Linked DNA regions of Homo sapiens: all the other regions are linked to region 1. The links come from fine-mapping of genetic effects on gene expression. A gene starts in region 1. Each other region holds a variant in brackets. All regions are shown on one strand. Distances are from middle to middle. Region 1 holds the start of DOK1 (docking protein 1). Region 2 overlaps M1AP (meiosis 1 associated protein). Region 3 overlaps SEMA4F (ssemaphorin 4F).

The links. PIP is the estimated chance that this variant, and not a neighbour inherited with it, causes the effect.
Region 2: its variant is the best candidate, but not a certain one, in a credible set for the expression of DOK1 in whole blood (INTERVAL, PIP 0.75).
Region 3: its variant is the best candidate, but not a certain one, in a credible set for the expression of DOK1 in whole blood (TOPMed, PIP 0.63).

What each region holds. Positions count from the first base shown.
Region 1 is chr2:74,553,547-74,556,310 of GRCh38, forward strand. DOK1 (docking protein 1) reads left to right here and starts at 1,174. Exons shown (of 5, transcript NM_001381.5): 1 at 1,174-1,268; 2 at 1,608-1,907; 3 at 2,029-2,122; 4 at 2,348-2,532; 5 at 2,762-2,764. The coding sequence starts at 1,209. LOXL3 (lysyl oxidase like 3) reads right to left here and starts at 396. Exons shown (of 14, transcript NM_032603.5): 1 at 330-396. RefSeq lists a silencer at 516-1,265 and enhancers at 1,274-1,791, 1,416-1,475.
Region 2 is chr2:74,607,732-74,610,495 of GRCh38, forward strand. All of the region lies in intron 3 of M1AP (meiosis 1 associated protein), which reads right to left. Among named protein-coding and RNA genes, the nearest start is that of M1AP, 39 kb to the right of the region's middle. The variant G/A (reference allele first, on the strand shown) is at 1,412.
Region 3 is chr2:74,664,723-74,667,486 of GRCh38, forward strand. The region is part of intron 5 of SEMA4F (ssemaphorin 4F); the gene reads left to right. Among named protein-coding and RNA genes, the nearest start is that of SEMA4F, 12 kb to the left of the region's middle. The variant G/A (reference allele first, on the strand shown) is at 1,217.

The DNA.
Region 1 (2,764 bases):
AGCAAGCCCCCGTCAACATGCTTCCCCCAACCCAAACAATCAATCCAACAAGGCAGCTTTGTTCTGGGTTGGGGACCCAGGGGCAGCGCCTCCCGGAGGAGCCCCCTCCCTTAGGGCGCTCCTGGCGGCCCTGTTCGAACACCCGTAGCCCCCGCCTCCGGTATGTGCCTCCTCCGTGTACTCTGTCTCACTTGCCCTTTGACAAGAATCAAACTCTCAGTTGGGTGGCTTCCCCTCGACTCCATCCCACACCACCCGTTTTCCCTGGTCCCTCCACATCCTCTCCATCCCCTACTCATTCCCTCTGCGGTTAGCGTGACTCCCCCTACCTTGGCCGAGCAGGACCCTAAGGGCTGGGAGAAGAGTGCTGGTCCTGGAGATCAGTCCTAGGACTTCCAAAAAAAAAAAAAAATGCTCGGCCAGGGGAGACTGGACCCCCCTCTCTCCCCCTTCTCCGTTCGTCCCTCCCACATCCCCCTGAGCCCTCCCACATTCCGCCTTCTCCTTCCATTCCTCCCGGCCAGTTCCCTCCTCTCCTCCTCTGGGTCCTCCCTCCCCGTGGAGCTGGCCACTGCCGCGCCCCCTCCCCCTCCCTGGCCCTCCCGGCTCGTTCAATGAAGCTTTCTCTTCCCGCGGCATGGAGGCCAGGCCTCTGCGGTCAGGGAGCTGACATGCAAGCGGCGGCCGGGCGGCGGGGCGGCCCCGGTGGTGGCGGGAAGCGGTTCAACCCCAGCCCTCCCTCCGAGTCCCGGGCCAGCGGAGTCTAAACAGCCCGGCTCGGGCGGGGCTGGGGGCGGGCCCGGCCAGGGTAAATAAAGCCCCGGAGGCCCGTGTGGGTCTCTCCGGTGCCCGGGGCGCTTTCGGGGTGATGTCATGGCTTTCACTCTGACGTCACCTTGGGCATATGACGTCACGCGCAGCCACCACGCCCAGAGGCCAGGGCCCTCGCGCCAAAACCGAGGACTTTCGGTGGAGCCACTGGCGCGCCCCCACGACGGCGGGTAGGGGCCTGGGGTGCTGCAGCTCCCGGCTAATCCGGGGGTCTCCACCATTCCTTCTCGCTCCTCTCCCTCACCCCACCGCGACCCCCCCAGCGGCTGCCGGCGGGGGCCGGGGAGGGGCGGAAACTCCTCCAGGGAACCCGGCCCCGCCTCCCGCCCCGCCTCCCGCCGCAGGGCCAGGAAGCGCGGAAGGAACCGCCGGGGGCCATGGACGGAGCAGTGATGGAAGGGCCGCTTTTTTTGCAGAGTCAGCGCTTTGGGACCAAGGTAGTCTGGCGCATGGATGCCGAACCTTATCCGGGCTAGTAGTGGGTGAGAGAGCCCAGAAACAGGGAGAGGTGGGCAGCGGGCTGGAGAGCGGCGCCGGGAGTTGGAGAGCCTGTGACTTTCCCGTGAAGTTGCTTTGCACACTCCCGGGAAGCGTCTGTAGTCTAGGGGTTCTGGTCCTGGGGAGACGGAGTGGCATCGTCCTTGGGAAACTTCGCCCCCAACCCCGTTTGGAAGCCCCAGATCCCAAATCGACTTGCGCCGCAACCTCCTTCCCCGTCGGGACCCGGGCCGCCTGCGCACGCCACTCCCTCTCGAGCACTCTCTCTCTCTCCCTAGAGGTGGAGGAAGACCTGGGCCGTGCTCTACCCGGCCAGTCCCCACGGCGTAGCGCGGCTCGAGTTCTTTGACCATAAGGGGTCGAGCTCTGGGGGTGGCCGAGGGAGCTCGCGCCGCCTGGACTGCAAAGTGATCCGTCTGGCTGAGTGTGTGAGTGTGGCCCCCGTCACCGTGGAGACCCCCCCTGAGCCCGGCGCCACTGCCTTCCGCCTGGACACTGCTCAGCGCTCGCACCTGCTGGCGGCCGACGCGCCGTCCAGTGCAGCCTGGGTGCAGACGCTGTGCCGAAACGCCTTTCCGGTGAGGAGCTGCGGCGATGCGGGGTGGGGGCAGTTACAGAGGCAGAGAAATGGGGCTGCCTCAGACCGACCCCCGCTCCCCGCTGAGGAAATTACGGGTTTCTCGATGCTCTCTACTACAGAAAGGCAGCTGGACTCTGGCGCCTACCGATAACCCACCTAAGCTTTCTGCCCTGGAGATGCTGGAGAACTCCTTGTACAGCCCTACCTGGGAAGGTAGACGCCTCAGAAGCCCGGGCAGGGATGGAGTGAAGAGGAGGAGGGCCGAGGGCCTTTGGGAAGTGGGTGGATACCCAGGGGCCCATGGGGAAGTAAGAAGTAGGAAGGCCCTGAGATCTGGCTTCCGAGTGAGTGCTTGGACACTATGCTCATGAGTCCTCTGGGTCCCCACTGCTGCCCCCGTCCCTCCCCCGCAGCTGTCTAATCGTGTATGCCTTCCAGGATCCCAATTCTGGGTAACGGTGCAGAGGACTGAGGCCGCCGAGCGCTGTGGCCTGCATGGCTCCTACGTGCTGAGGGTGGAGGCTGAAAGGCTGACTCTCCTGACCGTGGGGGCCCAGAGTCAGATACTGGAGCCACTCCTGTCCTGGCCCTACACTCTGTTGCGTCGCTATGGCCGGGACAAGGTGCAGGGGCTGTCCGGGAGGGCTTCCTGGGTTGGGCAGCTGTGGGAGGGGTGGGGCAGGACAGAAAGTGGGAAGCTCTGACCTTTGGATCCCCCTTTCTTGCCTACCCGGTGACCCCGCGTCTGTTCGCAGGTGGTCTCTTCTTTGTAGATACCCTAACTAGTGCAGGCGTGTGACTCACTTCCTCTGATGGCTCCTGGTAATGTGTTTCCCCCTCTACCCTCCTTAGGTC
Region 2 (2,764 bases), 54 kb after region 1:
CCAGAGTGCTGGGATTACAGGCGTGAGCCACCATGACTGGCCACTGTATGTTATTATTAGGAGTTTCCTCTTGAACTTTTAAAGACTGGACGGTAATCATTAAACATATGCAATTCTCATTTGTACTTAGATGTTTTTGATCCATGAAGAGGGATGTAGATTAAAGCACTATTATTATTATTATTATTTTAAAAGACATTATTTTTTAGGGAAGTTTTAGGTTCACAGCAAAATCGAAAGGAAGGTACAGAGATAGCCCATATACCCCTTGTCCCACATATACATGGCCTCCCTCATTATCAGTATCTTCCACCAAAGTCATTGCAATTGATGAACCTATATTGACACATCATAATCACCCAAAGTCCACAGATTACATTAGGGTTGACTCTTGGTGTAGTACATTCTATGAGTCTAGACAAATGCATAATGACATGTACCCATCAGTATAATAAATATCATATTGAGCCTTTTCACCACCCTAAGAATCCTCTCTGCTCTATCTATTCATCCCTCCTTCTCCTCAACCCTTGGCAACCATTGATCTTTTTACTATATCACCATAGTTTTGCCTTTTCCAGAATGTCATATAGTTGGGGATATATATGCAGCCTTTTCAAATTGGCTTCTTTCACTTAGTAATATGCATTTAAGGTCCCTCCATATCTTTCTGTAGCTTGATAGCTCATTTCTTTTTAGTGCTGAATAATAATCCATTGTCTGGATGAATCATAGTTTATTTATCCATTCATCTGCTGAAGGACATCTTGGTTGCTTCCAAGTTTTGGCAATTACGAATAAAGCTGCCATAAATACCCAAGTGCGGATTTTTGTGTGGATAGGTTTTCAACTCCTTTGGGTAAATACCAAGAAGCATGATTTCTGGATTATATGGTAAATGTATGTTTAGTTTTGTAAGAAACCATCAAACTATCTTTCAAAGTGGCTGTGCCATTCTACATTCCCATCAGCAATGAAGGAGAGTTCCTGTTGCTCCACATCCTCACCAGCATTTGGTGTTGTCAGTGTTCTGGAATTTAGCCATTTTAATAGGTATGTGGTGGTATTTCATTGTTGTTTTAATTTGCATTTCCCTGATGACATATGATGTGGAGCATCTTTTCATGTTTGTTTACCATTTGTGTACTTTCTTTGGTGAGGTATCTGATAAGGTCTTTGGTCCATTTTTTAAAGTTTTATTTTGTTTTTAATTGACACATAATAATTGTACACATTTACGGGTACAGTGTGATGTTTTGATACATTTATACATTGTGTAATGATCAAATCAGGGTAATTAGCATATCTATCACTTCAAACACTTCTCATTTCTTTGTGATGAGAACATTCAAAATCCTCTCTGCTATTTTGAAATATACATTACTGTTAACTATAGTCATGCTATTGTACA[G/A]TAGAACACCAGAACTTATTCCTCCTAATTGTAACTTTGCACCATTGGCCAACCTCTCCTCATGCACCCTTCCCCCCTATCCTCAGCCTCTGATAACCACTATTCAACTCTGTACTTCTATGAGATCAACGTTTTTAGATTCCACAAATGAGTGAGATCATGCAGTACTCGTCCTTCTGTGCCTGGCTTATTTCACTTAATATAATGTTCTCTAGACTCATCCATGTTGTCACAAACAACAGGCTTTTATTCTTTCTTATGAAGGAATGGTATTCCAATGTGTATAAATACCACATTTTAAAAATCCATTTATCCATTGATAGACACTCAGGTTGATTCCATATCTTGGCTACTGTGCACAGTGCTGCAATAAACCTGGGAGTGAAGATATCTCTCCAACACACTGATTTCATTTCCTTTGGGTATATACCCAGTAGTGGGATTGTTGGATTATATGGTAGCTCTGCTTTTAATTTTTTGAGGAACCTTCATATTGTTCTCCATAGTGGCTGTACTAATTTGCATTCTTACCAAAAATGTAAGGAGGGTCCCCTTCTCCATCTCCTCACCAATATTTGTTATTTTTTAAATCTTTTATATAGTAGCCATTCTAACTGGGGTGAGGTAATATTTTATTGTGGGTTTGATTTGCATTTCTCTGATTAGTGATGTTGAGCATTTTTGCACCTGCCTGTGGCCATTTGTATGTCTTCTTTTGAGAAATGTTTATTCAGCTTTCAGATTATTCATTTTTTCCCTGTTGAGTTGTTTGAGTTCCTTATATATTCCGGATATGAATCCCTTGTCAGATGCATAGTTTACAAATATTTTCTTCCATTCTGTAGGCTCTTACTTCACTCTATTTTTTTTTTTGAGACAGGGTCTCACTCTGTTGCCCAGGTTGGAGTGCAGTGGTTCAACCATGGCTCACTGCATGCAGCCTTGACCTCCTAGGCTCAAGTGATCCTTCTGCCTCAGCCTCCCATGTAGCTGAAACCACAGATGCATGCCACCATGCCTGGCTTATTTTTGTATTTTTTTTTTTTGTAGAGATGGAGGCCTCACCATGTTGACCAGACTGGTCTGGAACTCCTAGACTCAAGTGATCCTGCTGCCTTGGCCTTCCAAAGTGCTGGAATTACAGGTGTGAGCCACTGCACCTGGCCCACTTCAATCTTTTGATTGTTTCCTTTGGTGTGCAAAAGCTTTTTGGTTTGATAAAATTCCATTTGTCTATTTTTGCTTTTGTTGCCTGTGCTTTTGAGGTCTTATTAAAAAAAATCCTTGCCCAGACCAATGTCACAAATTGTTTCCCTCATTTTAAGAGTCAGGGTCTTGCTCTGTTGCCCAGGC
Region 3 (2,764 bases), 110 kb after region 1:
TTGAATGTTCTTCATGTTTTAGTACTTATTTTTATTTCTTCTTTGGTAAATCCTCTGCTCATGTTCTTGGACCAGTTAAGAGGTAGGATATTAGTATTTCAATTACATATCTTTTCCTTTGTGATTGTATATAATTTTTAAGCTCAATCCTTCACTTAAAGAGCAGATAACATTTTTTCTTAAAAATTTTTTCCAAACATATAACTCTTTGATCTGTTAATATTTGGCATTATTTTGATGAATCGCATGAGGGGGGATCTAAATTAATTTTTCCCAGCTAGCTAATCAGTTGACTCAGCATCATTGATCATACTGTTTTTTTCTTTCCTTGCTGACTTTTTTTGCCAACTTTATCATAAAATTAATTTTTACCTATATTTTTGGGAAATATTTTATGTTAAACAAAAATTGGGACACAAGATCTAACAATGAAAATTTTTTCCTATGCATGACTTTATTTTTTAGGGAAAGTTTTAAAAGCTATACAAATTAAATCACTCTTTTTCTTTTTTTTTTTTTTTTTTTGAGACAGAGTCTTGATCTCTTGCCCAGGCTGGAGTGCAGTGGCGCAATCTCCACTCACTGCGAACTGCACCTCCTGGGTTCACACCATTCTCCTGCCTCAGCCTCCCGAGTAGCTGGGACTACAGGCGCGTGTCACCATGCCCGGCTAATTTTTTGTATTTTTAGTAGAGATGGGGTTTCACTGTGTTAGTCAGGATGGTCTCAATCTCCTGACCTCGTGATCTGCCCACCTCGGCATCTCAAGGTGCTGGGATTACAGGCATGAGCCACCGCACCCAGCCATTAAGTCACTCTTTAGTCTTATAGTTAATGACTTATCTTTTTCTGAAAAATAAAAAAAAGTTTTTGAAAATGAGCATAAAGTATATATTGACTAAATACAATATTTTGAGTTGTCATGATTATCATTATCTATTGTTGAAATTGATGAGACCTTCCTTATACATGTTTGAATAAAACAATTTAGTGGATAGTTTATTTTTCTAGGTTTTTAATCAACATCTTTGATGACACTCAGAGTCATTAAAGATTTCTGAGTTTTCGTGGTTGTGATATCTCTTGAGTCTATAAAATTGTTTATCAGCAAAATGACTTCTTACTTGCAACACTCTAAGATAATCATTTATCGTACTTTTGTTTCAAGCAGTAATTTTTGTTTTTTTTTTTTTTTGTTTTTTTGAGACGGAGTCTC[G/A]CTCTGTCGCCCAGGCTGGAATGCAGTGGCGCCATCTCGGCTCACTGCAACCTTCGTCTCACAGGTTCAAGTGATTGTCCTGCCTCAGCCTCCTGAGTAGCTGAGATTACAGGCGCCCACCACCACTCCTGGCTAATTTTTGTATTTTTAGTAGAGATGGGGTTTCACCATGTTGATCAGGCTGGTCTCAAACTCCTGACCTCATGATCTGCCTGCCTCGGCCTCTTAAAATGCTGGGATTACAGGCGTGAGCCACTGCACCTGGCCTCAAGCAGTAATCTTTAAGCATGTTTAGCCCTCTGTGAGTAATTTCTCTTTATTAGGTCAGCAAGTGAATTCATATTAGAATGTGGTTTAAGAATACAAATTTCCAGTTTTAGTAAATGTGCTGCTGAAGCGAGCACAAGAATACAAATTCCATAAAGATCATTATAAGACAAAGTGGGAGGAACATTTTCAAAAAGGTTTTAAGTCTTTTTTTTTTTTTAAATAAAATTCAGGGTTGCCTTTCAGTTGATAATTGATGGAGGCGATCAGAACTCACTTCCTAATGGTTTAGAATGGTTAGCTTCAGTTAATGTGGAAACTCTATGTCTCTAGCTGTCTCAGATCCAAATCATAGTCAATACTAATATTATACATTTTCATCTGAAGTTATTACTTTACAGGGTTATAATTTAAAAGTTTTTCCTGGTCTGACATAAGTGCTAGCATTTACTTGGGGCTTTCAAGAATGATTCATTATGCCTTGCTTTGCCTCTGTTTTGAAAATAGCAGTATAGAAATAGTGGTAACATTATATAATCATTAGAACCAAAATTCCCAATTAGGTTCTGTAAAAATGTCCTTAAAGATAATAGCAGTATTTTGAAATGAAAAGAGCTTTTAATTATGAAAATATGATTAGAATATAATAGGAGTATTTACTTAAAATTGTAAAAATTACAATGTGCATTGTAGAAAATTGAGAAAATGTAGAAATATATAAAGAAGAAAGTAAAAATGTTATTTGTAATTCTATCATTACCAAGTAACCACTATTATTATTTTGGAGTATTTTGAGTGTTTTCTTCTACTGTGTCTATGTGTCTGCGTATTTATTATAACTTGGAATTATGTATATTTCATTTACTATTGTATACTGAGCATTTTCTCATCATAGAAATTGTTTCTTCAAAACATGATTTTTAGCAGTTGCATACAATTACATAATTTGTGCTGCATACACAGATGGATGTAGCATGACTTAATTATTTCTATATAATTATACATTCAAATTTTAAAATTATTGTTTTTAAACATAATGCTGCAGCAGGAATCCTTTTACATAATTCTTTGCATTAATCTACTTAATTGCATATGAGTCAATCCAAAAAGTGGAATTGCTAGGTGTAAGAGTATAGATTTTGATGGTGCTTGATGGATTTGGACAAATTAATTGCTCTCCAGTTAGTCCTACCAGCAATGGCTACCAGCAGTGGCTAAAGGGCCTGTCCCATTGCCAGTCTCAAGTAATATGTACAAACAAACAGTGACCTCCTACAAAGT